Linked DNA regions of Homo sapiens: all the other regions are linked to region 1. Evidence: fine-mapped expression QTL. A gene starts in region 1. Each other region holds a variant in brackets. All regions are shown on one strand. Distances are between the middles of the regions. Region 1 holds the start of SLC25A26 (solute carrier family 25 member 26). Region 2 overlaps SLC25A26 (solute carrier family 25 member 26). Region 3 overlaps LRIG1 (leucine rich repeats and immunoglobulin like domains 1).

Region 1 (11,009 bases):
AGCTGGCCATGGAAATATTCACACTGCTGTCATTAATCTAGATAAGTAACTAGAAAAAATAAGTGAGAGCAAATTTAACATAAATAAGGAAAGTAGTTGTGATGAAAAGGATGAAAATGTCCCAGACTAAGTTATGTCAGCAAGTCTTCGCATTAAACGAACTCACAACATTGAAAGCACAAAAAATAAAATGTTAGAAGTTGATCCAAACTGAGAAAGCAGTATGACAACTTGCCAAGGCATAAAAAGATGCTTCTTCTATAATACATAATGAGAACACAAGCAAATGTTCAAACTACTGTTGATAAGGTTTTGTCCAAAAAATTAAGTTATTAATGTTTCTAATGTTTTTAATTACAGTGTACTAAATAAACATCAGCTTTGCAATTTTTCCCCTATATATTACAACCAAAGCGTTTTTAATGTTTTGACAAAAATTCTTAGGGTGGGCCAGGTGTGGTGGCTCATACCTGTGACACCTCTTTCTACAAAAAAAATTTTCTAAAAACTGTAAGAACAACATGGGCTGGGCTCAGTGGCTCATGCCTGTAATCTCAGCACTTTGAAGCTGAGTCAGGAGGATTGCTTGAGGCCAGTACTTCAAAACCAGCCCTGGCAACACAGCAAGACCCTGTCTCTACAAAACAAGAAAATTTTTAATTAAAAAATTAGCCAGGCGTGGTTGGTGCATGCCTCTAGTCCCAGCTACTCAGGAGGCTGAGGTGGGAGGATCACTTGAGCAGAGACAGCACCACTGCACTCCAGCCTGGGCAACAGAGGAAGACCTTGTCTCAAAAAAAAAAGAAAAGAACGCACATGAAATGGTTTGGCTCTGGGTCCCCAACCAAATCTCATCTTGAATTGTAGCTCCCATAATTCCCACATGTTGTGGGAGGGGCCTGGTGGGAGGTAATTGAATCATGGTGGCAGGTCTTTCCCATTCTGTTCTGGTGATAGTGAATAAGTCTCACAAGATCTGATGATCTCATAAAGGGGAGTTCTCCTGCATACGCTCTCATCTGCAGCCATGTAAGACGTGACTTTGCTCCTCCTTTGCCTTCTACCATGATTGTGAGGCCCCTCTGCCAGCCATGTGGAACTGTTAGTCCATTAAACCTCTTCCCTTTATAAATTACCCAGTCTTGGGTATGTCTTTATCAGCAGTGTGAGAACAGACTAATACAGGAAATTGGTACCCACAGTAGGGTGCTACTATAAAGATACCTGAAAATGTGGAAGCGACTTCAGAATGGGTAACAAGCAGGGGTTGGAACAGTTTGAAGGGCTCAGAAGACAGGAAGATGTGGGAAAGTTTGGAACTTCCTAGAGACTTGTTGAATGGCTTTGACCAAAATGCTGACAGTGAGATGGACAATAAAATCCAGGCTGAAGTGGACTCAGATGGAGATGAGGAACTTCTTGGTAACTGGAGTAAAGGCCACTCTTGCTATGCAAAGAGACTGGCAGCATTTTGCCCCTGCCCTAGAGATCTGTGAAATTTTGAACTTGAGAGAGATGATTTACAGTATCCGACAGAAGAAATTTCTAAGTGGCAAAGCATCCTAGAGGTGACAAAGCATAAAAGTTTGGAAAATTTGCAGCCTGATGATGCGGTAAAAAAGAAAAACCCATTTTCTGGAGAAAAATTCAAGCTGGCTGCAGAAATTTGCATAAATAACCAGGAGTCAAATGTTAACTGACAAGACAGTGGGGAAAATGTCTTCAGGGCATGTCAGAGACCTTCATGGCAGCCCCTCCCATCACAGGCTCTGGAGGCCTAGGAGGGAAAAAATGATTTCCTGGACTGGGTCCAGGGCCCCCTTGCTGTGTGCAGCCTCAGGACTTGGTGCCCTGTGTCCCAGCCATTACAGCCGTGGCTAGAAGGGGCCAAGGTAGAGCTCAGGCTATGGCTTCGAAGGATGCAAGCCCCAAGCCTTGGCAGCTTCCACATGGTGTTGGTACTGTGGGTGTGCAGAAGACAAGAACTGAGCTTTGGGAACCTCTGCCTAGATTTCAGATGATGTACGGAAACGTCGGGATGTCCAGGCCGAGGTGTGCTGCAGGGGTGGGGCTCTCCTAGAGAACCTCTACTGGGGCAGTGTGGAAGGGAAATGTGGCTGCCCCAGTAAGGAGTCCCCACCAGGTCACCACCTGGTGGAGCTGTGAGAAGAGGGCCACTGTCCTCCAGACCCCAGAATGGTAGATCCACTGACAGCTTGAACCCTGTGCCTGGAAAAGCTACAGACACTGAATGCCAGCCCATGAAAACAGCCAGGAGGGGAGCTGTATCCCACAAAGCCACCATGGGAACCCACCTCTTACAGCAGCGTGACCTGGATGTAAGACATGGAGTCAAAGGAGATGATTTCAGAGCTTTAAGATGTGACTACCCTGTTGGATTTCAGACTTGCATGGGGCCTACAGCCCCTTCATTTTGGCCAATCTCTCCCATTTGCAATGGGTGTATTTACCCAATACCTGTAACCCCATTGTATCTAGGAAGTAATTAACTTGCTTTTCATTTTACAGGCTCATAGGCAGAAGGGACTTGCTTTGTCTCAGATAAGACTTTGGACTGTGGACTTTTGAATTAATGCTAAAATGAGTTAAGACTTTGGGGACTGTTGAGAAGGCATGATTGGTTTTGAAATGTGAGGATAGGAGATTTGGGAGAGGCCAGGGGTGGAATGATATGGTTTGGCTCTGTGTCCCCACCCAAATCTCATCTTGAATTGTAACTCTCATAATTCCAATGTGTTGTGGGAGGGACCTGGTAGAAGGTAACTGAATCATGGGGGCAGGTCTTTCCCTTGCTCTTCTGGTAATAGTGAGTAAGTCTCACAGGATCTGATGGTTTTATAAAGGGGAGTTCCCCTGCAGCACATGCTCTCTTGTCTGCCACTATGTAAGACATGACTTGCTCTTCCTTTGCCTTCCACACAACTGTGAGGCCTCCCCAGCCAAATGGAACTGTAAGTCAATTAAGACTCTTTCCTTTATAAATTACCCAGTCTCAGGTATCTTTGTTAGCAGCATGAGAACAGACTAACACGATGTAATCCTACCACCAAAAATACTTAGTGCTATTTTGGAGTATTTCAATCTGGCTTTTTTTCCCCATGAATGGAATAGGTTTTAACATAGCTTTAATTAGGTACAAGCAAATATACATACATGCAATGTTTTTCTCTTAATTTTATCTCATAAGCATTTTCCATGTAATTATAGTACATTCTCTTCACAAGCACTATTTTTTATGGCTGCAGACTAGTCCAAGAAATGGGTTTCCCATTGTTTGTCTAATTCTTCCCCTCTGTCCCATGTTTTAGCAGCTTCTTACTGTCTTCACTGAGTTAAATGTTATTTATATAAATATCTTTAGGTTGCTAATACATAGTTCCAGTTGCTTTCCTAAAAGTATGCACTGATCAATGTACTCTTTGAGGATTTTGTTTCTGGATACCCCACTCTGTGCTCCAAATGATAACTAACATCCCAGAGGCTCTCCACTTATTCAATCCTCTTCATGAAGCTTTAGGAAGGGAGCATTTCAATGTCTGCTACTTGCCAGGCTCTGCTCTGTGTGTTTAATGTTACCTCATTTAATTCTTCAAATCCAAGTTTCAAGACTTCAGCAATCATCTAGGCTTTTCATTCAAAGTAGTACTGAGTGCTTACCTAGTGCCAGGTACTGGTAAAAGAGTAGTAAGCAAAACCAAACTCCCTCAGGAGTGTTCACTGTGTCTCAAACGCACTCCAAGACATTAAAAAGTAGCCACTCCATTTCCGTACTACTCTGATAATAAAACATTTCAATGGCTTCCATTACACTACAAATGAAATCCAAATTATTTTCCCTAGCCCATAAAGCCCCACCTCAGCTGGCTTTGCCTACCCCTCCCATACCAACCCCTGCCATGCTATCCTTACCCATTAGGCCTCACCACTTGAAAACTCTAAGCTCTTTCCACTTGAGCCATTCCCCATGACTGAACCTCCCACTCTGATCATCAAAAATTCAAGCCCCTTCCTATCTTTTAGGTCTTAGCTGAAATGTTACCACTTCGTGGCTTTCCTTGGTCACTCCATCTAAGAGGTTCACCAATATTTGCCTACTCTGTCGCATCTTCAGTTCATTTCTTTCATAGCACTTATTCATTGCAACTGTTTTATCTGCTGGCCTTTCTTCCCTACTTGAAATGGGGTTATCTGCCACTGTATCTACAAAGCCTACCACAATACCCAGTGGGCAGAATAGATGGAAGAAAAATTGTGTGCTGAATGCATAAATAAAATGTTTTTCCTTTACCTGGAATGAAATCTAGTTTCTTGAAACTTCCACCTATTGATTCTAATTTTACCCTCTATAAATACATTGGGAAAAAAGTATACTTTACTGCATGTGTATCATACTTTAATTAAGTATATACTAAATCCATTCTTTTGTTAACTGCAGCACTCACCTGTGTTTTAGCAATTGCAACCTTTGCTGACTTCGGAGAGTATCAAGAAGCAGATAAGGGCACGACTCCCAGGTGACATCACCTGGGTTGGAATATGAGCTCCAATACTTACACAGACGAAATGGATCTCACTTGTGTGATTTTGAACTAGTTATCTAATCTCTTGGTATCCCACTTCCCTCATTTGGAAAATTAGGATAAGAGTTCAATTATTGTGAGAATTAAATGGGATAATGTATGTAAAGAGCTTACCCCAGTTCCTGGCACAGGAATGTTAGCTGACAAACTACTGCTGCTGTGTCACCAGCTAGACAGGAAAGCTCCTTAAAAGCGGTAACATTGGCCAGGCGCCGTGGCTCACGCCTGTAGTCCCAGCACTTTGGGAGGCCGAGGCGGGCGGGATCACGAGGTCAGGAGATCGAGACCATCCTGGCTAACACGGTGAAACCCCGTCTCCACTAAAAACCCAAAAAATTAGCTGGGCGTAGTGGCGGGCACCTGCAGTCCCAGCTACTCGGGAGGCTGAGGCAGGAGAATGGCGTGAACCCGAGAGGTGGAGCCTGCAGTGAGCCGAGATGGCGCCACCACACTCCAGCCTGGGCGAAGAGTGAGACTCCTTCTCAAAAAAAAAAAAAAAAATCAGTAACATTATTTCTTTATATTTCTAAGACCTACCTTATACAAGTTTCAACAAATCTAGATTTAAAGCTATCATCCTACAAGTCTGGCTAAGACATCCCTACTTCCATATATTCCCCTAACACCCTGAACCTAGCCCACCTGTTATTTATCCCAACAGTCATTTTACTATTTTGTCTCTAACACCTGACCCTTAGGAGCAGGTCTATCTTGTTCACCATGTTATCCTCAACACCTGCAACACCAAAATTCGATAATTAAGTGACTAAATCACTGTGGGCCTCCATTTTCCCTATGAAAATCATTTTAAAAATTATTTGTCTGTCTCTGCCCATTCCACACAATGAAAACGTAGGCAGCCAAACTCTGTTTTGTTAACTGCTGTATCTAGTATCCTCTACCAGACGCTCCAAAATATTTGGTAAAGGACTTTTTTTTCTGTTAATTCATGTTGATTCTCGTAGTTTTCTGCTACGGAATTAAATACTAAGCCTGTTTATTGACTCCGCAGCGTTCCCGATGAGCTATGTGTGCTCACCAATATTTCTCCAAAGCCTAGGCTTGGAGCAGAAATAGCAGATTATGTATTGAATGAACAGAAGGACATGTCATTTTCTAAGACTGAAAAGAGATGCAGCAAAATGAGAAACGTAGTATTGAATAGAAGGGCTGGGAGCGATGTGAGTAAGGTTTTTGTTGTTGTGTTACATACATTTCTTTAATTCCCAAGATCTCTAGAGTAGTTACACTATTTAATGAAAGAGTAGTTAACAGTGTATAATAGAAGCTCTTTTTTAAGTAAATGAGGGTGCAAAAGACAATGACTCACCTTCCTTCCCCCACCTGGCTCTTATGACCTGGCAGTACAGACATAGCCTTAACACCTGGCCCGCCGGTGGCCTGGGAGCCTCGTGCTCCCTCTCAGACCTGGCTGCCAGTAACCCGAGGACAGTCCAGCCCGCAAAACCGGAAGAAAACCAGTGCAGAGAACGCCCGCGGGCTCCAATGCCGGACGCCGGCACTCTGAGCAACCCACCCCACCGCCCCGCACTCACCACCAGCGCTGCCACGAACCCCGGCCGGTCCATGGTCGCTCAGACCTCGTCAAGGCTACAATCCAAGCCGGAGCAGAAGCGGATCACGTCCTCGCGCGCTGGGCGCCGCCATGTTTGAGGCGGGTCTGTCTTGAACTTCCGGGACCACGTGACGTAGAACCACAACAACTGCACGTGCAACGCGAGACACCTGGGCCTAGGGGAGGGCCAGAGAGGAGGGGCGGGGCCTCGGGGAGTGTGGTGGAGCTAAGTCTCGGCAAATCCCTTACCTCGGTTTCCTGCAGCAGCGTTGTGTGCAGCTAGACGGAGGAACTTTCGCGAGCAAAAGATCCGTGGCCGAGATCCAGGAGAGAGCAGCGGTAGAATGAGGCCGGCGTGATTCTGAACTGTAAACCCAGAAGAGGCGTGGCTGTGGCGGAGGGAGGAGTCGTGAGGGGTAGTACTAACCTCGGGAGGCGCGATTCGGGATCCTAATCGGATATTTCATTTTGGTTTATCTCTTAGTTTTGTCAAAAAATTTTATCTGAGTTTATATTAAATTAACTCATTATCAGAAGATTATTAAATAAAGATATAGAAAAATACATCAGAAGTTTCCTGACCGGAGTTAAAAATTAGCATCCTCCATTTCTCTTTACAGAGTTACTGCATTTAAAATTATTTGTTTGTTCAGTTATTTACCTGCTCATGTTGTTCGCTGTTGTACTCATGTGTACACCTCAAAGCACACGTTATTAAGTACTTAATAACATTTCTTGGAGTGGACCTGTCTTTATTAAACAAACAAATACCTTGTAAACTTCTGTATATATTAAGGGCCAACTACATCTCAGACGTGGTGCTAAGTGATTGACAGACATTTTTTCATTTAATCCTTTCACCAACCCTATGATGTCAGCAACACTAGTGTCCTCATTTTACAGAGGCTCCTGATGCTCCAACAAGTAACCGACTCAATGTGGCTACAGAGAACACAGCAGAGCAAGCACTGAAAATATACTTAATGCCCTCATCATCTTTCCTCAAAACCGTTATAATAACCTGAGCAGGCTCCTTGCCTGGCCTTTCTTCAATCCCTATTCTATAACACTGCTAGAATTATTCTTATAATTATTCTTATTCTCTTCTAGGTAAAATGATCTAGAAATGATACGCAGAATAGCTTTAGGTGTTAGATGGAATTCAAATTCTATCACCTGCTGGGTTTGGGGATAAGTTTTCCAAGATTAAGTTTTCTCCCCTGTAAAGTGGCGATAATGATAGTCACTTTGTCATGCGGTACTATTATATTAATAGATTAAATGAGATAATGCACTCAAGTTCTTAGCCTAGTTCCTGGCTCATAGAAAGTACTCTCTAAAGGTGATGGTAATGTTATTTCCCTGCTTACAACTCCCCTCTGCTGCCAATGGAGACAGTCCAGCTCCCTAGCATGGTATACACCTCTCAGCTGGTGTCTCCTGTCACTCTTCCCACTAGCCGGACTACACACAGACAGACTATACACTTCCAAGCCTCCTAATTTTGCCCATGTTGTTCTCTCTACCCAGAATACCTTTCCCTAAGCTGCCTGTAGGCCCTCTCAAAACATGCTAGTTCACTTTGTCAATGCCAGCAGAAGAATCTCTGTTGCTGCTATTAATGTCTTTCAAAGTCTCATGTGCTTTGGTCAGGCCTACCCAGGATAATCTCCATTTTTATTAACTCAAAGTCAACTGATTAGAGACCTTAATTATATCTGAAAAATTCCTTTTGCCATACGTGACAACATAATCATGGTGGTAATGTTCTGTCATACTCACAGGTCCTGCTCACAATCAGTGGGGTGATTATGCAAAACACATTAGGGGCCAGGAATCTTGAGGGCCACCTTAGAATCCTGCCTACTTCACATTCCTATAAACCCTCACCGGCAGCCTCCTCAAAGGCCATCAAGTTTCTATTAATAAGCTTTCACTGACATTTCCCTCACAGTCTTCCCACCTTTCACCTACTGCCTGGTGCCAATGGCACTCCCACAGTTTAGGAATTACAGTAGCGCCCACCTCCAAGTACCAAAATCTGTATTATTTGTCTATTTCTGCGTAACAAATTACCCCCAAAATTTAACAGACTAAAGCAACGATAAACTTCTATTACCTCACACAGTTTTCATACGTCAAGAATCAAGGAGTCATTTAGCTGGGTGTTTAAGACTCAGAAATTTTCATGACACTACAGTCAAGATGGTGGCCAGGGCCATATCATAAAACTTGATCATGACCGCAGGATCCAATTCCAAGATGGCTCACTCCCATAACTGGCAGATTAGTGCTAGCTATTGGCAGGTAGCCTTAATCCCTCATGGCATACATCTCTCCATAGTACTGCTTGAGTGTCTTCATGATATAGTAGCTGGTTGTTCCTAGAGTAAGTGGTCTGAAAGAGAACAAGACAGAAACTACAAAGTCTCTCATGACCTGTTCTCATAAATTACTCAGTTGTCATTCCAGCAATAGTCTATTGTTTACACAGGTAATCGACATTTATTATGGGGCTGGACTACCCAAAAGCCTAAATACCGGAAGATGAGGATCACTGGGTGCCATCTTGGAAACTGGTTACCACATCAGGGAAATGCCGGTGAACACCACAATGAGATATGAATACACTAGAACTCACTAGAGTGGCTAAAATTAAAAAGCCAAGTGTTGACAAGGATGAGAAGCAACTGGAAATCTCATACATTGCTGTTTCGAATTTTATATGGTACAACCATTATAAAATCCAATGCCACACTTAGGTATTTACCCGAGAGAACTAAACATTTATACAAATACTTTTACATTATATTTCAAAGCAGCTTTATCCATAATAGTCAAAAACTGAAAACAACCTGAATGTCTATCAACTGGTGGTATAAACATATTATGATACATCTTTATAATGGAACATCACTCAACAATAAACGGACATGAATTACTGATATATGAAACAACATGGATTAATCTGAAAGCATTATGCTATGTGAAAAAAAAAAGACCACATGTATTGTGATTCCACTTACGTGAAATTCTGGAAAAGACAAAATTATAGTGACAGAAAGTATATAAATGCTTTCCAGGCGGTGGAGGTAGAGGCAAAGTATTGACTATGAAGTGGGCACAAAACAATAGTTTGCAATGATGAAGATATTCTCTTGTTATTATTGTGGTAGTAGTCGCATGGGTGTGTACATTTACTAAAACGCATTGACTTGCACAATTAGAATGGTTGTACTTAGTATATATAAACTATAAGGCTGGGCGCCGTGGCTCATACCTGTAATCTCAGCACTTTGGGAGGCCAAGGTGGACGGATCACCTGAGGTCAGAAGTTTGAGACCAGCCTGGCCAACACAGTGAAGCCCTGTCTCTACTAAAAATAGAAAAAATTAGCTGAGTGTGGTGATGCGCGCCTGGAGTCCCAACTACTCAGAAGGCTGAGGCAGGAGAATCGCTTGAACCCGAGCGGTGGAGGTTGCGGTGAGCTGAGATTGTGCCACAGCACTCCAGCCTGGGTGACAAGAGCAAGACTCCATCTCAAAAAAAAAAAAAGTATATGTAAATTATAGCTCAATAAAGTTGATTAAAATATTACTATCTCGCAGGATGATGAGGAATAAATAATATATGCACAGAAAGTTTTAGTCCAGTGCTTGTCATATAGAAATATTCGGTTTATTCCGTATTTTCCTATTTAAGTTAGAGATTCTGAATATTATGAATGAGAGACTGATAAGTTATCAAGGTGCATAAGTACTTTGTGATACATACTACTATAGCCTCCTAAGTGAAAATAAATCTTATTTCTAGCTACTAATGTTCCTGGAAGTTTTTGATGTAATTCCTTCCCTAAGAGAAAATTTAACCTAGACTTATACCTTTAATTTTGATTTAATACATCCTTTGAAGTAAAATTAAGAAAAAAATTCCTTTCCTCTTCAATGCAATGGTTGTCTTTAACTTTGCAAGAAAAAATTGTGTTGATGTCATTTTCTGGTAACTTGGAGGGAAATGTAATTTATCAGGTATCTTTCAGAATCAAGAAGAAATACATAGTCTCTCCTTTTATGCAAGGTAAAGGCTTTACCAGGTATTTCATGATACCACTGGAATCCTTTTAGGAAATACAGATATTACAAACATGACCTAGGGCTTCCTTTTCATGAAATGCTAGCAGAAAGACTCATTACTACTTGTGCATGCTTTTTAAATGGAGTATTTCAATGCATCATCATTATCACCACATTGCAGGCAGCATATGTTCTCAAATCTTTCATTTTAAAAGATACAGGCAATGTGGTAAGCACTGATTTGCATTACACATGTGATATTATAATAATCCTGTCTTTCTCACTTAAATCTATCACTGTAAGCCAAGTTTTCTTTTAAACAAGCTCTAAAATCTTAATAGTATTTATAAAAATTAGCAAGAAACCAAAGACATAGCTCAAAAAATAATTTAAGCCTAGCACAAAAAAAAAAACAAAAACAAAAAACAAGGACATAATCTTCAACCAGGACTAGGCTTAAGTTCCAAGCCCCGTTACTGTTTTGTTTGTTGTTGTTGTTTTTTGTTTATTTGTTTGTTTGTTTTAAGACAGGTTCTTGTCCTGTTGCCCAGGCTGGAATGCAGTGGTGCCATCTCGACTCACTGCAGCCTCAACCTCCGGGTTCAAGCAATCTTCCTGCCTCAGCTCCTCAAGTAGGTGGGACTACAGAGGCATGCCACAACACCTAGCTAATTTTTGTATTTTTAGTAGAGATGGGGTTTCACCATGTTGCCCAAGCTTGTCTTGAACTCCTGAGCTCAAGCGATCCACCCACCTCAG
Region 2 (11,009 bases), 83 kb before region 1:
TAAAGACCACTGACACCACAAAGAAACTGCATCAACTAATGTGCAAAATAAACAGCTAGCATCATGACAGATCGAATTCACACATAACAATATTAACCTTAAATGTAAATGGGCTAGATGCCCCAGTTAAAAGAAACAGACTGGCAAATTGGATAGAGTTAAGACCCACTGGCGTGCTGTATTCAGGAGACCCATATCACATGCAAAGACACAAATAGGCTCAAAATAAAGGGATGGAGGAATATTTACCAAGCCAATGGAAAGCAAAAAAAAGCAGGGGTTGCAATCCTTGTCTCTGACAAAACAGACTTTAAACCAACAAACATCAAAAAAGACAAAGAAAGGCATTACATAACGGCAAAGGGGTCAATTCAACAAGAAAAGCTAACTATCCTAAATATATATGCACCCAATACAGGAGCACTCAGATTCATAAAGCAAGTTCTTAGAGACCTACAAAGAAACTTAGACTTCCACACAATAATAGTGGGAGACTTTAACACCTCACTGTCAATATTAGCTAGATCAGCGAGACAGAAAATTAACAAGGATATTCAGGACTTGGACTCAGCTCCGGACCGAGGGGACCTGACTGACATCTACAGAACTCTCCACCCCAAATCAACAGAATATACATTCTTCTCAGCACCACACAGCACTGATTCTAAAATCGACCACATAAATGGAAGTAAAACATTCCTCAGCAAATGCAAAATAATGGAAATCATAACAAACAGTCTCTCAGACCACAGTGCAATCAAATTAGAACTCAGGATTAAGAAATTCACTCAAAACCACGCAACTACACGGAAACAACCTGCTCCTGAATGACTATTAGATAAATAACGAAATTAAGGCAGAAACAAATAAGCTCTTCGAAACCAATGAGAACAAAGACACAACATACCAGAATCTCTGGGACACATTTAAAGCAGTGTTTAGAGGGAAATTTACAGCACTAATGCACACAGGCGAAAGTGGGAAAGATCTAAAACCGACACCCTAACATCACAATTAAAAGAACTAGAGAAGTAAGAGCAAACAAATTCGAAAGCTAGCAGAAGACAAGAAATAATTAAGATCAGAGCAGAATTGAAGGATATAGAGACATGAAAAACACTTTAAAAAAAAAATCAATGAATCCAGGAGCTGGTTTTTTGAAAAGATTAACAAAATAGACCACTAGCCAGACCAATGAAGAGAGAAGAATCAAATAGACACAATAAAAAATGATAAAGTGGATATCACCACTAATCCCATAAAAATACAAACTACCATCAGAGAATACTATAAACACCTCTATGCAAATAAACTAGAAAATCTAGAAGGAATGGATAAATTCCTGGACACATACACCCTCCCAAGACTAAACCAGGAAGAAGTCGAATCCCTGAATAGTCCAATAACAAGTTCTGAAATTGATGCAGTAATTAATAGCCTACCAACCAAAAAGAGCCCAGATGGCTCACAGCCGAATTCTACCAGAGGTACCATTCCTTCTGAAACTATTCCAAACAACAGAAAAAGAAGGACTCCTCCCTAACTCACTTTATGAGGCCAGCTTCTTCCTGAAACCAAAACCTGACAGAGACACAACAAAAAAAGAAAATTTCAGGCCAAGATCCCTGATAAACATGGACGCGAAAATCCTCAATAAAATTCTGGCAAACCGAATCCAGCAGCACATCAAAAAGCTTATCCACCATGATCAAGCAGGCTTCATCCCTGGGATGCAAGGTTGGTTCAACATATACAAATCAATAAACATAATCCATCACATAAACAGAACCAATGACAAAAATCACATGATTATCTCAACAGATGCAGAAAAGGCTTTCAATAAAATTCACCTTCATGCTAACCACCCCTTCATGCTAAAAACACCCAATAAACCAGGAACAGTTACGGAATATATGGAATAGTTATGGAATAGTTATGAATAGTTATGGAATAGTTATGACAAACTCATAGCCAGTGTCATACTCAATGGGGAAAAGCTAGAAGCATTAACTTTGAAAACCGGCACAGCAGAAGGCTGCCCTCTCTCACCACTCCTATTCAACATAGTACTGGAAGTTATGGCCAGGGCAATCAGGCAAGAGAAAGAAATAAAGGGTATTCAAATAGGAAGAGAGGAAGTCAAATTCTCTCCGTTTGCAGTTAACAAGATTGTATATTTTGAAAACTCCATCATCGCAGCCCCAAATCTCCTTAAGCCGATAAGCAACTTCAGCAAAGTCTCAGGATACAAAATCAATGCGCAAAAATCACAAGCATTCCTACATACCATTAACAGACAATCAGAGAGCCAAATCATGAGTGAACGCCCATTCACAACTGCTACAAAGAGAATAAAATACCTAGGAATACAACTTACAAGAGATGTGAAGGACCTCTTAAAGGAGAACTACAAATTACTGCTCAAGAAAATAAGAGAGGACCCAAACAAATGGAAAAACACTCCATGCTCATGGATAGGAAGAATCAATATCATGAAAATGCCCATACTGCCCAAAGTAATTTATAGATTCAATGCTACCCCCATCAAGCTACCATTGACTTTCTTCACAGAATTAGAAAAAAACTACTTTAAATTTCATATGGAACCAAAGAAGACCCGTATAGCCAAGACAATCCTAAGCAAAAAGAACAAAGCTGGAGGCATCATGCTACCTGACTTCAAACTATACTACAAGGCTACAGCAACCCTAAACAGCAGGGTACTGGTACCAGAACAGATACATAAACCAATGGAACAGAACAGAGGCCTCAGAAATAACACCACACATCTACAACCATCTGCTCTTTGACAAACCTGACAAAAACAAGCAGTGGGGAAAGGATTCCCTATTTAATAAATGGTGTTGGGAAAACTGGCTAGCCATATGCAGAAAACTCAAACTGGACCCCTTCCTTATACCTAATACAAAAATTAACTCAAGATGTAAGACTTAAACGTAAGACCTAAAACCATAAAAACCATAGAAGAAAACCTAGGTAATACCATTCAGGACGTAGGCATGGGCAAAGACTTCATGATTAAAACACCAAAAGCAACGGCAACAACAGCCAAAATTGACAAATGGGATCTAATTAAACTAAAGAGCTTCTGCACAGCAAAAGAAACTATCATCAGAGTGAACAGGCAACCTACAGAATGGGAGAAAATTTTGCAATCTATCCATCTGACAAAGGGTTAATATCCAGAATCTACAAGGAACTTAAATAAATTTACAAGAAAAAACAAACGACCCCATCAGAAAGTGGGCAAAGGATATTAACAGACACTTCTCAAAAGAAGACATTTATGCGGCCAACAAACAAATGAAAAAAAGCTCATCATCACTGCTCATTAGAGAAACGCAAATCAAAACCACAATGAGATACCATCTCACTCCAGTTACAATGACGATCATTAAAGAGTCAGGAAACAACAGATGCTGGAGAGGATGTGGAGAAACAGACACCTTCACACTGTTGGTGGGAGTGTAAATTAGTTTAACCATTATGGAAGACAGTGCAGCAATTCCTCAAGGAACTAGAACCAGAAATAGCATTTGACCCACCAATCCCATTACTGGGTATATACCCAAAGGATTACAAATCATTCTACTATAAAGGCACACACACACATATGTTTACTGCAGCACTATTTACAATACCAAAGACTTGGAACCAACCCAAATGCCCATCAATGATAGACTGGATAAAGAAAATGTGGCACATACACACCATGGAATACTATGCAACCATAAAAAAGTATGAGTTCATGTCCTTTGCAGGGACATGGATGAAGCTAAAAACCATCATTCCCAGCAAACTAACACAGGAACAGAAAACCAAACACCATATGTTCTTGCTCATAAGTGGGAGGTGAACAATGAGAACACATGGACCCAGGGAGGGGAACATCTCACACTGGGGCCTGTTGGGGGCTGGGGGCAAGGGGATGGATAGCATTAGGAGAAATACCTAACGCATGTGGGGCTTAAAATCTAGATGACAGGTTGATGGGTGCAGCAAACCACCATGGCACATGTATACCTATGTAACAAACCTGCACGTTGTGCACATGTATCCCCAGAACTTAAAGTATTAAAAAAGAAAAGAAAAAAGAGAGAGACAAGAAAAAGAAAAACAACCCTATTAAAAAGTGGGCAAAGGACATGAAAAGACACTTCTCAAAAGAAGACATTCATGCAGCCAACAAACATAAGAAAAAAAAGCTCAACATCACTGATTAGAGAAATGAAAATCAAAACCACAATGAGATACCGTCTCACGCCATTCACAATGGCAATTATTACAAAGTTAAGAAACAGACCAGGCGCAGTGGCTTACGCCTGTAATCCTAGCACTTTGGGAGGCCAAGGTGGGTGAATCACGAGGTCAGGAGTTTGAAACCAGCCTGGCCAGCATGGTGAAACCTTGTTTCTACTAAACAAAAAATTAGCTGGGCATGGTGGTGCACACCTGTAGTCCCAGCTACTCGGGAGGCTGACGCAGGAGAACTGCTTGAAATTGGCAGGCAGAGGTTAAAGTGAGTCATGTTAGTGCCACTGCACTCCAGCCTAGGCAACAGAGCGAGACTCCATCTCAAAAAAAAGAAAAGAAAAAGAAAAAAAGAAAGAAACAATAGATGCTGGCGAGGTTGAGGAAAGACAGGAATGCTTTTACGCTATTGGTGAAAATGTAAATTAGTTCAACCATTGTGGAAGATGGGGTGGCAATTCCTCAAAGAGCAAGAACCAGAAATACCATTTGACCCAGCAATCCCATTACAGGGTATATGCTCAAAGGAATATAAATCATTATATTACAAAGACACACGCACATGTATGTTCACTGCAGCACTATTCACAATAGCAAAGACAAGGAATCAACCCAAACCAAATACCACATGCTCTCACTTGTAAGTGAACAATGAGAACACATGGACACAGGGAGGGAAACAACACACTCTGGGGCCTTTCACAGGGTGGGGTGGGGGGAAGGGGAGCATTAGGAAAGATGGCTAATGCATGCTGGGCTTAATACCAAGGTGATGGGTTGACAGGTGCAGCAAACCACCATAGCACATATTTACCTATGTAACAAAGCTGCATATCCTACATATGTATCCTGGAGCTTAAAAATTAAAATGAAATAAATAAATAAAAGTCCTTCAATCCCTAATATAAAAAATTTGATATCTGTTAACATCACCTTTTAAAATCCTAACCAGGAATTCCATTTTTTATAACACTGATTAAATTACATAATGTTACTCTTAGAGAAACACCTTAGAAGAAAAATAGCAGACCCATTTGAGATAAAAGACATGTTCTCCTGTTGTCTTTAAATTATAGCAATGTACTTAGTAACAGAAAAGAAATCCATTTCCTAAATTTAGACGCTGCTTCTCCCAACTTCTCACAACCATGAGAACACCAAAGAAAGGCATGAGAAACTAACAAACTATAATGAGCGTGTACATTATTATTTGAGGGGAATGGGATGGAGATCATTTAGAAATGCTTTTGGCTTTTCGCAGCTCTAAGTGTAAAAATTCAGTTCCTAGAAAACTGTCAGTTGCTAATAAAGAATCTCAGAACTCTAACAAGTGATACTACCGTGTCATAAAAAATAAATCACAAGATACACTTTTTGGTGACAAAATCTTTTGAGTTTCTTAACATTATGGGGTAAAATGGTTGTGAGTTTATCAGGTCTTTTTGGCCCTATAAATCATAGTACATGTTATAAGTCATCCTCTTAATACTAATGTATCAATTTTTATCACAATTCATTTGGTAAACAGGATAATTCTGCAAAGTATTGAAAATTGCAAAGTTCTGAGCCAGCAACAAATTAGATTTCCACCCACATGGTGGTTAATCAGTCCCATGTACAGAGAGAAAGGAAACTGGATATAATGATTCTAAAAGCATTTTAAAGAATGTATTAGTGAACAACGAATCCTCAATGCCTGACACCTCGATGGTTTCCTGAAAGCACCAGTGAACCATGTAGCGTATATCCCAGTTAGCATGTTCAGCAATCAGGGGTTGTTACAGAGCTTACCAGTATAACAGCATGTATACAAGCCACACACAACAACTCACAGAAGCTCA[C/G]AAGCCTCCCCACACCTTTGACTCTAATCCTCCTCCTGCAAAAATAGAAGAAAAAATATGACAACAGACATGTGAACACAAAACTGAAACTGAACAGAAAAGGGAAGATATTAGCTTAGATATGAGACATAAGAAAAAGTATGCTCCAGAATCTTTTTAAATCAAGAGGCATTGTGGGAGGCCCCCAAGATTCCCACTCCCTGATGTACCCGCCCTGTATAATCCTCCCCCATCCAGTGTGGATGGGACCGTGAACAGGACAAAGACAAGTCCTGTGACGAAGTTACATTTAATCAGAAATATGAATGGATTCTGCAGATTTAATTAAGTTCCCCCATCAGTTGGTTCTGAGTTTATCAAGAGGGAAATTATCGTGGATGGGCTTGACTTCAAAGGTGAGTTCTTAGAAAAACCAGCCCCTTCCTAACAAGATCTGAAGTGTGAGAGATTCTCCTGCTGGCTCTGAAGAAATAAAATTTCATGTTGTAAAAGGGCCTATGGAGGGGGCCACATGGCAAGGACCTCAGAGCAGCCTCTGGAAGTAAAGTGTGGTCACCATCCAATCGCTAACAAGAAACAGGATCCTCAGTCATACTGCCACAAGGAAATGCCATCTGCCAACCGCCCTGTGCATTTGGAAGAGGACCCTAGCCTCAGATGAGATCACAGTCCCTGCAACACCTTGACTGTCACTGTGTGAAACAGTGAATGGAGAACTCAGCCACGCGGTCCTCAGACTGCTGCTGTAGAGACCCATGAGATCATCAATATATGTCACCTTAAACCACTAAAGTTGTGGTAATTCATTACACAGCAACAGAAAGCTAACAATCATCTACTGCACCTCTAGACATTCCCCTAAGTGATCCTGATGTTACATGACACTTGAAGTTACTCATTTCAATGGAGTGAAAAATGTGGGACATTCTAGTTAAGTGATCTTGACTGGCAGTTAAAGTTTCAGAAGTCCTACAATATTTTCTGACTTACAGCCTAATCTTACCTGGAAGGCATCTTGCTGATTATCTGATCCAGCCACCTCACTTTTAGCCAAGACTAAGAGAGGGAGCTAGCCTCCCCAGGTTCACAGGGCTAACGAGCAGCAGAGGACGAGCCACAGCCCAGTTCCTCCAACACAGTTAGCTGTTCCCAGAAGTCTTTCCTTAAAGGTGGCTGCGCCTTAAAGATACTTGCAGTTGTGCTTGACTAGAGAGGGGGAGAGAAGTATATCTCCTCTCTGATACTGTAGTAAAATGGCCATAAAATAAATACTGAATGCTTTAGAAAAGTGGAGTACAAAGCCAATATTTCAAAGGATTCAAAGACTAAAAGCAGTATTAAAGATGTCAACAGTGACTAGACCATGATAACTACTATATTATAATGTCTTCTGCATCTTTCAACCTCCCAGGGGACATTTAAATTGTCACTACTCACGGGAGGTGCTCCTGGTATCTAGTGGGTAGAGGCCAGGGATGCTGCTACACAGCCTGGAATGCAAAGGGGGGTCCCCATGGACACAATCCACAGCCCCTTAAACTCTGCTCTAAGGCATCAGTTATCTTTCTTTATCCCTGCTGACTCCCTAGCACTGAGACACTGAACACATGGCGTGCACCACCTGTGCTCCCTTACACACTCAGAAGGCAAAGCTCTCCCATATCTCAATTTTCTTTGGCTTGGGCTTTAATCACTGTTCTTTGGTTTGAACTTAAATATGGGCTAACCTTTTCACCAAGTTGTATCTAGCTCTAATACACAAGCACACCTGCCCAGCTCAATGTTGCTTCTGACAGACAAAGCCAAAACACTATTATGCATACTTGATTTTAACTAATGTATGTTTTACACATGAATCAAAATCTGGTGACCTATCAGCAAAGGCCTAGTGGAGTATGAGTGTGCAGAACACATGGTGGAGAACCGCTGCTTACTCTAAACTGCTGGCAGCAAATAAGTATTACATGACCCAAAAAAATGATATCGATGACTAGAATGAGAAAAGTGTCAAAACAACAGGAAGTGGCAGGGACTCTGATGACATGGAGAGCAGTTTCTGTCAAAACAAGCAGCCGCTACTCTGTTCTAGACAATTACTGCCATGCAGAAATGTAGGCCCACTATGACCAGATACCCAGATTGTCCAAGAAAACTTGGATAACTGGAGTTGTATATGAAACCACTCAATTTTAACATGTTAGCTTGTAGTTTGCAAAAACCTTGAGTCCAACATTTTGGGCCACGTCTTTGAAATTTATGGTCTAGAGATTGTAAGAGCAAATGAAGAGGTGCCAAGTGGGCAAATTCAGAGGGAGGAAGGTTCAGGATATACTTCTGCACAACAGATGGAGTATTAGAGACACTGGGGATAAAGCTAAGTGATAGGCCTTGGATGAGGCCAACAAGTTTCAGAGGAGCTGCTAGTGATATTATCATCATTATCATCACAACAATAATCATAAATTATAACATTTATATAGGACTGTATTTCAGGCACTGTCCTAAGCACTTCATATGCAGGAACACATGTAATTTTCCCAACAACCTTATGAGGTTGGTATTATTGTTACTCTCATCTTACAGAGGAACAAAATAAGTCAGTTTAAATAACTTGCCTAAGGCCACATGGCTAAGTACTGGAGCTGGGATTTGAATCCAGATAGGCTACCTTCAGACTCCATGTTTCTAATTACCCCCGTCACAATTCTAATGCTTGTATCTGTAGGCTTTTAATTCTGTATCTCTCTGTAACTACATATAAAATGTGTTTCATCCACCTAAGTTCTGAATGGTAACATGTAGATAGGAAAAGACTAAAACAATGCTTAAGGTACTCCGTCTAAACACGTATAGAAATGGAAGCATTTTTCCCAAATGAAAATGTTAGCCCCTGCTCTCTATAAATTATGTTGGCCTAGTAGGATTCAGTCCCTCTTGTTAAAGTTTTACTTTCTAATGACATTCTTGGCTTCTGCTTACATAAAAATACTAACAAACAGATGCAGAAGTCACACTCTCCGGCATGGAAGTCAAAAGGCATAGACGAATTGGTTGTGCCCTCCAACCAGAGTGGGAACTGTGGCAAACAATTCTAACGCCCATCAAAGATGCAAGGCATGAACTTGTCCTACACACTGTGGCAGCATTATTACTAAATTCCTTAAAAAGTCTGTATAAAAATCTGTAACAACTTGGCAAGCAAAATTACACTTCAAAGCAGCTAGTATGTAAATTAACTTCACATTTCACTTCATTTTAAAACAAGAGAAATTGCTATAATAAATTCAGGGAAACTGGCAATTTTGAGTTGAATACTAAAAAGAAAAGTAAATTTTCACCTTTACATGAGATCTACTATTTTTTATTCTTCATGAACCCTATCTTCCATTTCAGAATCCAATTATTTGAGGACACAATGAGTTCTATCATCATTTTATTCTGGCAGGTCAAACACTGGTCCAATATTATAAAAATGCATAGACTTTATTGAGACATAAAAAGCAACAAAGTATTTTCAATGCCGTAATTCCCAAATCTGCTTAGAAATCCAAACAAGTAATTTTTAAGTAGAATTTTAAATTGTGTTGGAAAAAACAAAAAACTCTGCATATACAGAAGCATAAATACAGATTAACAAGTGAATGCAACAAGATACTAAAATATAATACACGTGTTAGCAATCATTTTGAAGAAAGCACTAAAAATATCAGTACTAGTCCACCTCCCTTTAGTATATGCTACAGTCTAAAATATTTATATTTCCTTCTTTCTAGAAAATTATACTGCTCAAACTTTTTTTCATGAAGCAAAAAGGAAAAAGTCTCTCTCAAAATGCTATGCAAATATGCAGAAACCATGACATTATCCCTAGGAGGATGTATATAAATCCTTATTCTGTTATGGATCTTAAAAACAAAAAACGAGCATCAGCGACACCACCACCAAAGGACTCTTTAAGAAAGTACTTTTAAGATTTTAATTGTTCAAAATTGTTTAAGACAAATAGGAAAAGGTAATTTGAAATATATGCAAAGAACAAGAAATTTTACTTGTGGCTAATTCAATTATTTCCTTTGGAAAAGAATAAAGTTCAAATCATATTGCCAATGTCACTATAACTAAAATCTGACCATTACAAAAGGTCTCCCAAACTGCAGTCAATGGCCTGCTCACTTCAAGTAATATTGGTAATGGCTAAATTCCAGTATAACACCAAAAAAAAAAAAAAAAACAAAACAAAAAAACCCTAGCCTAGAAGTCCACTGGAGTTCACTGTAACGGGATTTAAGCTATAATTAAATTTGATTAGCTTGGTTCAAACCTCAAGTTCAAAAGACTTATCAGCATGAATGGATGAAAAACCCTTTTACACGGGCATTTTGAAAATATGAAAAGGGCTGACACAGCAAGCTTCAAAGACTTTAAAAGCAATTGACCCTTCCCAGAGCAAAGGAGAAACGCTAACAGCTGAAACTCAGATGCTGCGTGCAAAGAAAATAAAGTTCCAGATGGCTCAAAAGCCTGGTAGTTTATTAAATATTAAATACTATTATTTTTAACTGGATTTTTGCCCAGAGATAGCCAAATATGTCACCCATAAAATGTGAAAAAGCAGTATGATACCATCCCCTGAAAAACTGAAGCAAATAAATATTTTCTTTTTCAAAAACTACCCGCATGTGGAAGTTTCTCAAGGAGTTATACAAACAACCATGACAGTCAAACAATCAAGACGTTTAATAAAAAACAAAAACATCTATAACCTAAAAATCCAAATCAGTTTATTTCGAGACATTTAACTGTTACTCTATAAACACACACCTCATGCACACATACCCCCTTGGATCACATTATATTTTCATGCATGAAGAAAGGAGAAAAGTGAAAGAAGCAATA
Region 3 (11,009 bases), 160 kb before region 1:
ACAAAAGACCATTAGATTATATGATTCCATTCATAGAAATGTCCAGAATGGGGAAATCTGTGGAGGTAGAGATTAGGTTAGTAGTAGTTTAAGGATGGGGAGGGATGGAAAGAGAGGGGTAATAGCTAAAATGTACAGCATTTCTTTTTGAAGTGATGAAAATGTTGTAAAATTGACTGTAGTGATGGTTGCCCATATTGGTGAGTATACTAAAAACCATTGAATTGTATACTTTAGATGAGTGAGTTGTAGTGTAGATGAAGTATTCTCAATAAAGCTGCTTTTAAAAAGAAATATAATTTATATATCATAAAAATTTACCCCTTTAAAATATATAAATTGATGGTTGTTATAATAGTCACAACTGTGTAACCATCACTATTATCTAATTTTAGAACATTTTTATCACCACTAGAAGGATCCCCATACCATTAGTAATCACTCCCTATTCTCTGCCCCCAGGCCCTTGATAGCACTAATCTCATTGTGTCTCCATCATTTGCCTATTCTGGGCATTTAATATAAATGGAACCATACAGTATACGGTCTCTTGTAACTGGCTTTTCTCACTTAGCATAATTTTTAAGCATGTATCAGTACTTCATTCCTGTTTTTCATGGCTGAATAAATGGGTTTACATTTTATTTATCCGTTTATCAGATGATGGACATTAGATTGTCCCCACTTTTTGGCTATTATGAATAATGCTGCTGTGAAAATTCATATACAGGGTTTTGTGTGATTCTCTTGGGTACAAACCTAGGAATGGAATTGCTGGGTCATACGCTAACTCTGTGCTCAGCTTTTTTGAGGGACTGCCAAACTGTTTTCCAGAGTGGCTTCATGATTTTACATGCCCATCACCAATGCATGAGAATTCCAATTTCTCCCCATTTTTGCTAGCATGTGTTATTAACTGTCTTTTTTATTTTGGATGTACTCGTGAGTGTAAAATAGAGTCTCATGGTGGTTTTGATTTGCACTTCCCTAATGATTAATGATGTTAGGCATGTTTTCACCTGCTTATTGGACATACATATATATATATATCTTCTTTGGAAAAACAGCTATTTAAATCATTTGCCAGTATTCATTTGTCTTTTCAATGTTTAGTTGTAAAGTTCTTTATGTATTCTGGATATGAGACCTTCATAAGATACATGTTGTGCCAATATTTTCTCCCAGTCTGAGGGAGGGCTATTTTTCATTTTCTTGATAGTTGAAATGCAAAAGTTTTTAATTTTGGTGAAGTTCAATATCTCTATTTTTTCTTTTATTACGTATGCTTTTGATGTCATATCAAAGAAACTATTTGCCTGAGATAAGGTCACAAAGATTTCCTCCTTTATTTTCTTCTAAGAGTTTTATAACCTTAGTGTTACAAAGCCCTTTGATTTTATTCTTTTTCAAAATTGTTTTGTCTATTATGGATCCCTTGCCATTTCCTTACAATTTTTTGGATCAGCTTGTCAATTTCTGCAGTAAAGGAAAGTGGGATGTGGGTTGCATTGAATCTATAGACTAATGTGAGAAGTATTGCCATCTTAACAGTATTAAGTCTTCCCAATCCATGAAGATGGGCTGTCCACCCTTTTTTCTTAGCTTCTTAAAAATTTCTTTCAGTCATGTTTTGTCACTTTCAGTGTACACATCTTCAACTACTGTTAAAGGTATTTCTGTTTTTATTCTTTTTGCTATTGTAAATGAAATCCTTAATTTCACTTTTGGATTTTCAAAAATGAAATATTTATTGCAAGTATACAGAAATGTAATTGAATTTTGTATCTTGATCTTGTATCCTGCATATATGTTGACATCATTTATTCTAAGTTTTTCAGTAAATTTCTTAGGATTTTCTTTATATGTGATCATCATGTCATTTGCAAAAAGGTAGTTTCACTTCTTCATTTCCAGTCTGGGTGGCTTTCATTTCTTTCTCTAGCCTGTTGCACTGGCTAGAAGCTCTAATACAAAGAAGAGTGAATTTGTGAGAGTTTTGGTGGGAAATCATGAGACATCCACCTAAAAGTCCTAATTTGGCTCCATCTGACTTCTTTTTAGTTATTATCTTTAAAAATCTTTAAAGGGCACCCAATTTTCTTCAATTAATAATGTAAAAAAGACTGCATTGATATGTCCCAGGACCCTCAGTTCTTTAGGGATGGACTAAATGGCTGGTATCATCACTCAGGAGAGTTTCAAACTTGATGGAGGTTATGTTGAGAAATAAAGTTTATAATTCGGTTTTCCATGAACTTTTTGAAGTCCCCTCATAGTGTTGTTGAAGTCTTCTGTTTCCTTGATCTTCTGACTAGTTCTATCCGTTGTTGAAAGTGGGGTATTGAAGTGTACAAACTATTATTGTTGCACTATTTCTTCCTTTAATCTGGTCAGATTTTATGTTTTGTGGCGCTCCATTAGGTATATATGTATTTATCATTTTTACGTGTTTCTGATGCATTGACCCTTTTACATTATAAAATATTATTCTGTCTCTGTAGTAAAAACTCCTGTCTTAAAGCCTATTTTGTCTGTTAGTAGTATGGACACTTTAGTTCTCTTTTGGTGACTGCTTATTTGTATCTTTGAATCCACACTGTGTCTCTTGTAGGCTATAGCTGGATCATAGTTTTTTTTATCCATTATGGTAATCTTTGCCTTTTGATTGGAGTGTTTAATTCATTTTCCTTTAATGCATTTACTAATAAGGTAGAGTTTGCCCCTTATTTCTTCTATGTGTCCTATCTTTTTGTTTCATTGTTTTTCCAATACTGACTAGTTTTTTTATTGAAAAGATATTTTCTGTTGTACTATTTTAATTCCCTGTTTTTTAAATACACGGGTATTTTTTAGTTATTTTCTTAGTTTTGCCCATAGGAATTAAAATTAACATCTTACAACAATCTAGTTCAAATAAATAATGAAATTAACTTCAGTAATATGCAAAAATTATGTTCCTATTAAGATCCAGTTTTATTCCTTTGTGTTACTGTTGTCGTACACATTACATTTTCATTAAGCCCATCAACACAGCCTTATAATTACTGGTTTATGTAGTTGTCTTTTAAATCAGGAGACGCGAGTTACAAAAATACACGTATCCTGTGTGTTGTATTACCTGTGTAGTTACCTTTAATGGGATTTTTTATTTCTTGGTGTGGATTGGAGTTGCTATATGATGTCCTTTCATTTCAGCCATACTAAATACTCTCCTGGATTTCTTGTGGGGCAGGCCTGATAACAGTCAACTTGCTCTGTGTGTGTTTAAAATAAAAACATCGGAATGTTTTAATTTCCCCTTCATTTTTGAAGGATAGGTTTTTTAATACATAGAATTCATAGTTGAACGTTTTTCTTTCAGTAATTTGAATATCTTCCTACTGCCTTCTGTTCTCTGTGGGTTCTGGTAAGAAATCAGCCGTTAATAATAATGAAGATCCCTTGAATGTGATGAGTTGCTCCTCTTTTGCGTTTTCAAGATTCTTTGTCTTTGGCACCTGACAGCTTGACTATGATGAATCTGCGTTTGGATCTTTGAATTTACTCTACTTGGAGTTCATTAAGATTCTTGGATGTGTGGCTGCACATTTTTCATCAAATTTGGGGCCATTGTTTTGCAGATACTTTTTCTCTTCCTTTTTCTTTCTTCTCCTTCTTGGACTCCCATGATTTGTATGTTGTTGTGCTTGATGCTGTCCCACAAGTCTCTGTGGTTCTTTTCATTTTACCTCATTCTTTTTTCTTTGTTTCTCAGACTACATAATCTCAGTTGACTGTCTCAAGTTCCCTGCCCCCTCCTTCTGCCAGCTCAGTTCTGCTGTCAAGCCCCTCTAGTGAATTTTTCATTTCAGTTATTGTACTTCTAAGTTTCAAAATTTCTACTTGGTTCATATCTATAATTTCTCTTTATTGCTATAAAATTTTCTCATACTTTATCCTTTTTTTTTTTTTTTTTTTTTTTTTTGAGACAGAGTCTTGCTCTGTCACCCAGGCTGGAGGGCAGTGGCGTGATCTTGGCTCACTGCAAGCTCCGCCTCCTGGGTTCATGCCATTCTCCTGCCTCGGCCTCCCTAGTAGCTGGGACTACAGGCACCTGCCACCACACCCGGCTAATTTTTTTTTTTTTTTTGTATTTTTAGTAGAGACAGGGTTTCCCCATGTTAGCCAGGATGGTCTTGATCTCCTGACCTCATGATCCTCCTGCCTCAGCCTCCCAAAGTGCTGGGATTATAGGCGTGAGCCACCCCACCTGGCCACTATCCTTCGATATTTTTTTTAAGACATGGTTTCCTTGAGGTGTTTGAATATGCCTATAATTGCCGATTTAAAAAGTTTATTTAGTGAATCTAAGTCTGGGCTCCCTCAGAGACAGTTTCTGTTGACTGCTTTTTTTCCTGTTTGAGTGTTTCATAATATTTTGTTGAAAATTGGGCATTTAAAATAAAATAATGTGGCAACTCTGGAAATTGGATATTCCCTTTCTCCTCCCCCAGGATTTGCTGCTGTTGCTGTTTATTGTTACAGCTTGCCTAGTGACTTTTCCTGGACAAAGGCTATATAAAGTCCGTCCCCTTAAGTCCCTGCTTGTTTAGTTTAGTGGTTAGCTAATGGTTGGACAGAGAAGTCACCACAACCACTGTCTCCTATCCTTTACCGACGGCTTGTGTGTTTGTGTTGGGGTGTGCCATCACTTCCTATTTGTGTAGACAGTCATGCTCAGCCACAGGTGACAAATGAGGACCCCCTCACGTCTTTCCTGGGTGTGCACATGGCCTTGCACCTGCATGTGGCTGTCTAGATCCCCAGGAATGTATTGGACCTTTTCAAAGCCCACCATTAACACTGTATTCCCCACATTTTCCTTTATAGTTTTTTGGCCAGCTGCTTGTTTGCCCCATGGGTATTGTCCCCTCAGACAGCTGCGCTGTTGAACAGTGGCTACTGATTGTTGTAGTCATGTGCCCTGGGGCTAGGGCTTCTCCTGCTCGGCAAACTAGATCAGGGCAAATCAATGCAAATCCTGTGAATGGGGCTTTCCGTGTTGCTGCCAGATAGGCCACATGGTGTCAGTTCTGAGGATGGGGCTTTTGGGGAGCCCATTCTGACCCTTGAGTGGTTGCTAGGCTGCTGGGTTTCAAGGCTACCATGGAGCTGGGGAGGGAAGAATGGGGCTTTGGATAAGTTAAAATACCACAAAGCTCACATTTCTGAGATGTTGCTATTTGCTTGAATCAACAATCCATGGATTGTTGTAAGCCTTTGGTTTTCCAGAATTCTGAAAAAGTTGCTTTTGACCATTTTTCCAGGTGTTTTCCTTGTTTTAATGGAGGTGCAGATTTTTGGAGGTCCTTATTCTGACATTTTGGAAGTGTTTTACACCCCCTCCTTTTGGAGTAAGGTTTGTGGGTAAGATCTCTGCAGTCATGACCAGTGGTGCCTGACTGTTTTGTGTGAAAGTCAGCAGGCAGAGCCAGTTGTCTTAAGGAAACTGCCGGCTGGCTGGTTTGAGAACTGAGAAGTGGTGGGTTAATTTCTAATCAAGGAGTGTGATCATAAAGGTGATCAGTACTCACAGACTTCTAATTAGATGAGGTCAGATGTCCATGGTGCAACTCTTACGGCATCTGGTTGGTGGGGCTGAGGATGCACAGGGACCTCAAGCTCTGGTTCCTGCTTGGTGTCTGTGTCAGTTTCTGTTAGCATGAACAGCAGCTGGTTCCTCTGTGTACCAAGAACCCAGCGCTTTACAGTTGACCCTTCTCTCCCCAGATGACTTCCTGAAGCCACAGATCATCACCCAGCCAGAAACCACCATGGCTATGGTGGGCAAGGACATCCGGTTTACATGCTCAGCAGCCAGCAGCAGCAGCTCCCCCATGACCTTTGCCTGGAAGAAAGACAATGAAGTCCTGACCAATGCAGACATGGAGAACTTTGTCCACGTCCACGCGCAGGACGGGGAAGTGATGGAGTACACCACCATCCTGCACCTCCGTCAGGTCACTTTCGGGCACGAGGGCCGCTACCAATGTGTCATCACCAACCACTTTGGCTCCACCTATTCACATAAGGCCAGGCTCACCGTGAATGGTATGGAAACACCATCTTTGTTATAGTACCAGAATCCTACAAAGCACACTCCTGATTGCCCTTTCAGCTTTCCATGTAGAGATGACTGAGACAGGACACACACATGCTTCTGTGGGGCACTGTTAAATCCTATTGTTGCCTGGGTTTGCCCCAGAGCAAGTTTTGCAGATTTCAAGGGTTATTCACAATGAGTTACTTGTTTTTGGTGAGTTTTAAAAATCT[A/C]GTTATTGGCCGGGTGCTGTGGCTCATGCCTGTAATCCCAGCAGTTGGGAGACTGAGGTGGGCAGATCACTTGAAGCCAGGAGTTCGAGACTAGTGTGGCCAACATAGTGAAACCCCGTCTCTACTAAAAATACAAAAATTAGCCAGGTGTGGTGGCACATGCCTGTAATCCCAGCTACTTGGGAGGCTGAGGCACAAGAATTGCTTGAACCCAGGAGGTGGACGTTGCAGTGAGCCGAGATCACTCCACTGCATTCCAGCCTGGGTGTCAAAGTGAGACTGTCTCAAAAACAAAACAAAAACTAGTTATTAAGTCAAATTGTGGAGAGCTAAGCCTTGTTTTGTCCAGTTCTTATCCTCTATAAGCCAAGAGATCTGGCTTCCAAATTCCAAATACCCCTTAGCCTGGGGAAGCTGCTGTTCTTTGAGTAGATGGCACAGCATTGGAGTCAGAGGCTAGCTACTGCTCCAGAGACTGTGGAGTGCAAGGCTGGTGTGAGCCCTGGCCTGAAAGACACAGTGTCCTGGCAGTTGACAGGTTTTTACTCATTAACCAGCCTTGGAGCTTGTCAAGGGGACCATGTGTTATTGTGTGTTTGGAGGAGGGGGGTGGGGAGTAGATAGCTTGAAGAGTTTACTGTCCCACCCCAGTAACCTAATGGGGTTATCCTGATTACTAACTCTCTAGTTAAAAAGAATTGGCTTGAGAATCATCAGAATGGTGGATCTGCTTTGCTCTTTAAGCCCCCACAGATCACAGCGAAACACCTTCTTTACCACACTGTAGTGGGGTTGTCTTGGCTTATTCCAAGTCCTCACAGCTTCCGAAAGACTCAGCTGTTTGTTAGACTCTCCCCAAAATTGACGTTGACAGGAACTCTGGTGGTGCCTGACACGTGGCTGGATGCGTCCCACTCTGTCAGGACATCGATCTTTAGGCTGAGCAAGCTAGCAAGCTGAATGCTTCCTGCCTGGGTATACGGCAGTGGGCAGGAACAGCCTGGGTGAACAACCATCCAAATGGATGAGCCATCCCATTCATCCCATGAACACCCATCCAAACGGATGAGCCATCCCATTGCTCTCCCAAGGTGGAGGCATGCCCACCTTCCCTCTGTAATTCCATCTCCACAGCCTCTCTCTTGGTGGGTAAAGCAGGCAAGCATCAGGCCTACCTAGTGTGGATGGGCACCCCCTGCAACTCCCGTATAGGCACTGCCATGTAGAGTAAAAGCCTTTGCTTTGAAGGGACTATAGCCAGCCTAGGGTGTACAATGCAAGGCTGATGGGATGGAAGTGTTCCAACTGTGGTGGGAGAAGCTGGGGGTTCCTGATTCACAGGTGGCAGGAGTGGTCCTGGGCAGACATTGGGAGAAAAGAAGTGAACTGGCACTGGGCACAGTGACAGGTAGGTGTTTGCCAGAGGACTTCCTGGTTTTGCATCTAGCTGTCCCGTAACCCGACCCTGTATACGTATGTTTTCCAGTGTTGCCATCATTCACCAAAACGCCCCACGACATAACCATCCGGACCACCACCATGGCCCGCCTCGAATGTGCTGCCACAGGTCACCCAAACCCTCAGATTGCCTGGCAGAAGGATGGAGGCACGGATTTCCCCGCTGCCCGTGAGCGACGCATGCATGTCATGCCGGATGACGACGTGTTTTTCATCACTGATGTGAAAATAGATGACGCAGGGGTTTACAGCTGTACTGCTCAGAACTCAGCCGGTTCTATTTCAGCTAATGCCACCCTGACTGTCCTAGGTTTGCCTATTGCTCTACTGTGTGTGTGTGTGTGTGTGTGTGAGCGAGAGAGAGAGACTCTCAAATGCTCTGTGTGGCCAGGGGTGGTATGCGTTGTGGGCCTTTCGACCCTGTTTGAAATTTGGGGCTGCTTTTTGAGTTGAGTTAATTTTTCTTAAACAAGTGTTTCTATCTCTTTAAAAGAAATGATAGCTGGTGAATTAAGAGTCTTCATAGGGTTTAGCTACAGAACATTTTAAGAATTGGACAGGATGGATGTGGGCTTGGTCAAGAGCTACAGAACATTTTAAGAATTGGACAGGATGGATGTGGGCTTGGTCAAGAATAAGGACACAGGCCTGACACAGGACAGTTAGGGAATAGCAGGGGCTTTTGTCAGCAGAGGTTCACTGTCCCTGTGGAAGCCACTCCCAGCATGGAGATGACTCAGTCAATGAGTTGAAGGGTCTTCTCCAAAGCTTGCCACTCTGAGACAGAATCTCAGATGCATCTCATTGATATGTTGGATTGTCCGTTGTCCAGAAGACCGGGCAGAGCCAGAGCAACGGAGGCCCTGAGAATGACTAAGATCTCTGTTGCTCTCTTGTAGAGACCCCATCCTTGGTGGTCCCCTTGGAAGACCGTGTGGTATCTGTGGGAGAAACAGTGGCCCTCCAATGCAAAGCCACGGGGAACCCTCCGCCCCGCATCACCTGGTTCAAGGGGGACCGCCCGCTGAGCCTCACTGAGCGGCACCACTTGACCCCTGACAACCAGCTCCTGGTGGTTCAGAACGTGGTGGCAGAGGATGCGGGCCGATATACCTGTGAGATGTCCAACACCCTGGGCACGGAGCGAGCTCACAGCCAGCTGAGCGTCCTGCCCGCAGCAGGCTGCAGGAAGGATGGGACCACGGTAGGCATCTTCACCATTGCTGTCGTGAGCAGCATCGTCCTGACGTCACTGGTCTGGGTGTGCATCATCTACCAGACCAGGAAGAAGAGTGAAGAGTACAGTGTCACCAACACAGGTCAGGCCCTGCCAGCGGAGCTGACTTTCAAGGAGGGAGGAATGGCAGTGATGCTGGGGAACTGGGCCGGGTTCCAGTGGCTTTTGAAAGAATTGCACTGTGTTCAGAACTCCTGAGGGTTTAGTCCCACTAATTCCATTTTAACTTTGAGGAACTTAACCTTAAACAGGAATACTCTCAAATTTAACCTTAAACAGGAATACTCACAAATACAAGTAACTGACGCACCATGCAGTTTTCCCTCTCCTTGCTAACTCAGAGGCCGCCTATGCACAGGCCCTGCTGCCACGTAGTAGGTTGTTCCTGAAACAGTGCGGTACTTCTGTGAGCCCCGGCTTTCCATCACTGGTCTCCACTTCTTGTGGCGTCTGGCATCTGCTGGCTGCGCTCTTCACGCTGGGTGTAGAGTAAAGCTGAGCAGGCTCTGGGAGGGCCTGTTGCGTACATGGACTCCATGTCATCTCTCTGCACAGCGCTGATGGTCGTCACTGGGAGGATCCCCTTTCTGAGCTTGACAGTGAACGTGTGTCTGCATTTCTTGTCACTGAGACCCTGGTGTTCTATTTGTTCTGTCTCCTTGCAGATGAAACCGTCGTGCCACCAGATGTTCCAAGCTACCTCTCTTCTCAGGGGACCCTTTCTGACCGACAAGAAACCGTGGTCAGGACCGAGGGTGGCCCTCAGGCCAATGGGCACATTGAGAGCAATGGTAAGGCCTCAGTAACTGTGAAGCAGAGCTCTGCTGTGACTGTGTCTCTGGGTGCTGGAGGTGGCCTCCAGGTCTTTACAGGGCAGGTACCTGGCATTAGATGGGGCAAACTTGGTGAAGTAGAAGGCGGTATGACTAAGGGCTGCTATTTTGGACCCAGTCTTCATGAGTTCTGCAAGGTTTTAAAGTCCTGTCCCCTCAGGAAGCCACTGGATTGGGCTTAGCATCTCCCTGGCAGGATAAAGTAGGCTTGCCTGGAGTAGCAGCTGGAAAGGGCATTACGGTGCATGAACCCAGCCAACCCATTCCTTACATGGGGAACGTGCCCAGGTCTGCTCTGTGATCCAGTCTTACACTGGAAAGCTGTCACCAGGATGAGGTACTTCCAACGGTGGGGGCCTCTGAGCACTTGCCTGAGACTGTAGAGGCTCACCCTGAGACAGCTGCTCATTTCACAAGGCCAGCCTGCCTGCTGGGAAGTAGTAGCAGAAAACACGCTGCTTGCCAGACCAGCAGCCCCACCGCTCTGAAGAACTTTTTAAAAAAAATGACTGTTCTAGCGGCCTTGCTCATTCCTTTCATAAGGCTTACTGTGAAATACCAAGCCCAGAGTTTCTAATCGTGTTGGAATCCACTTGCAGGTGTGTGTCCAAGAGATGCAAGCCACTTTCCAGAGCCCGACACTCACAGCGTTGCCTGCAGGCAGCCAAAGCTCTGTGCTGGGTCTGCGTATCACAAAGAGCCGTGGAAAGCGATGGAGAAAGCTGAAGGGACACCTGGGCCACATAAGATGGGTATGAGATGCTTCCCATTGGAAGTAGTTTCTTTCTGAAATGGAAATTTGGGCTGACCTAGTCACTACATCAAAGGGGGAGACACATTCCTAGTCCACAGCTGTCTCCAAATTTGGTATTCAGTATATACAGGGGAAGCTCAGGCCTGGCTCTCTTAATTCCAGGATAGTTTCTCCTAAATAAATCTACGCCATGGTAAGCCTGAGCATGAATTTTCTAGATGTATAAGCAACTTAAATAAGGGGCAAGGCACAAACGAAGTATAGAGTTTCAGTCAGCACTTTTTCACCAGGGCTATTTTGAGGCTTATTTCTAATTGTTGAAAAGACCCAACACTGCATGGTACCTAAGGCTAATGGCTTTTCCCCCGTGAAGCAGTAAGACTACATTGTCTATGAAATTCACTGTAAACACGAA

The links. PIP is the estimated chance that this variant, and not a neighbour inherited with it, causes the effect.
Region 2: its variant is fine-mapped to the expression of SLC25A26 in whole blood (TOPMed, PIP 0.97).
Region 3: its variant is fine-mapped to the expression of SLC25A26 in lung (TOPMed, PIP 0.92).

What each region holds. Positions count from the first base shown.
Region 1 is chr3:66,216,276-66,227,284 of GRCh38, reverse strand. SLC25A26 (solute carrier family 25 member 26) reads right to left here and starts at 6,284. Exons shown (of 10, transcript NM_001379210.1): 1 at 6,158-6,284. The coding sequence starts at 6,190. RefSeq lists enhancers at 5,661-6,160, 6,282-6,341, 6,512-6,671.
Region 2 is chr3:66,299,592-66,310,600 of GRCh38, reverse strand. The region is part of intron 5 of SLC25A26 (solute carrier family 25 member 26); the gene reads right to left. Among named protein-coding and RNA genes, the nearest start is that of SLC25A26, 84 kb to the right of the region's middle. The variant C/G (reference allele first, on the strand shown) is at 6,114.
Region 3 is chr3:66,381,062-66,392,070 of GRCh38, reverse strand. It overlaps LRIG1 (leucine rich repeats and immunoglobulin like domains 1), which reads left to right. Exons shown (of 19, transcript NM_015541.3): 13 at 5,770-6,090; 14 at 7,799-8,080; 15 at 8,670-9,089; 16 at 9,673-9,798; 17 at 10,440-10,592. Among named protein-coding and RNA genes, the nearest start is that of LRIG1, 110 kb to the left of the region's middle. RefSeq lists enhancers at 5,019-5,078, 5,109-5,188, 5,199-5,368, 5,829-5,928, 8,375-8,874 and 1 more. The variant A/C (reference allele first, on the strand shown) is at 6,313.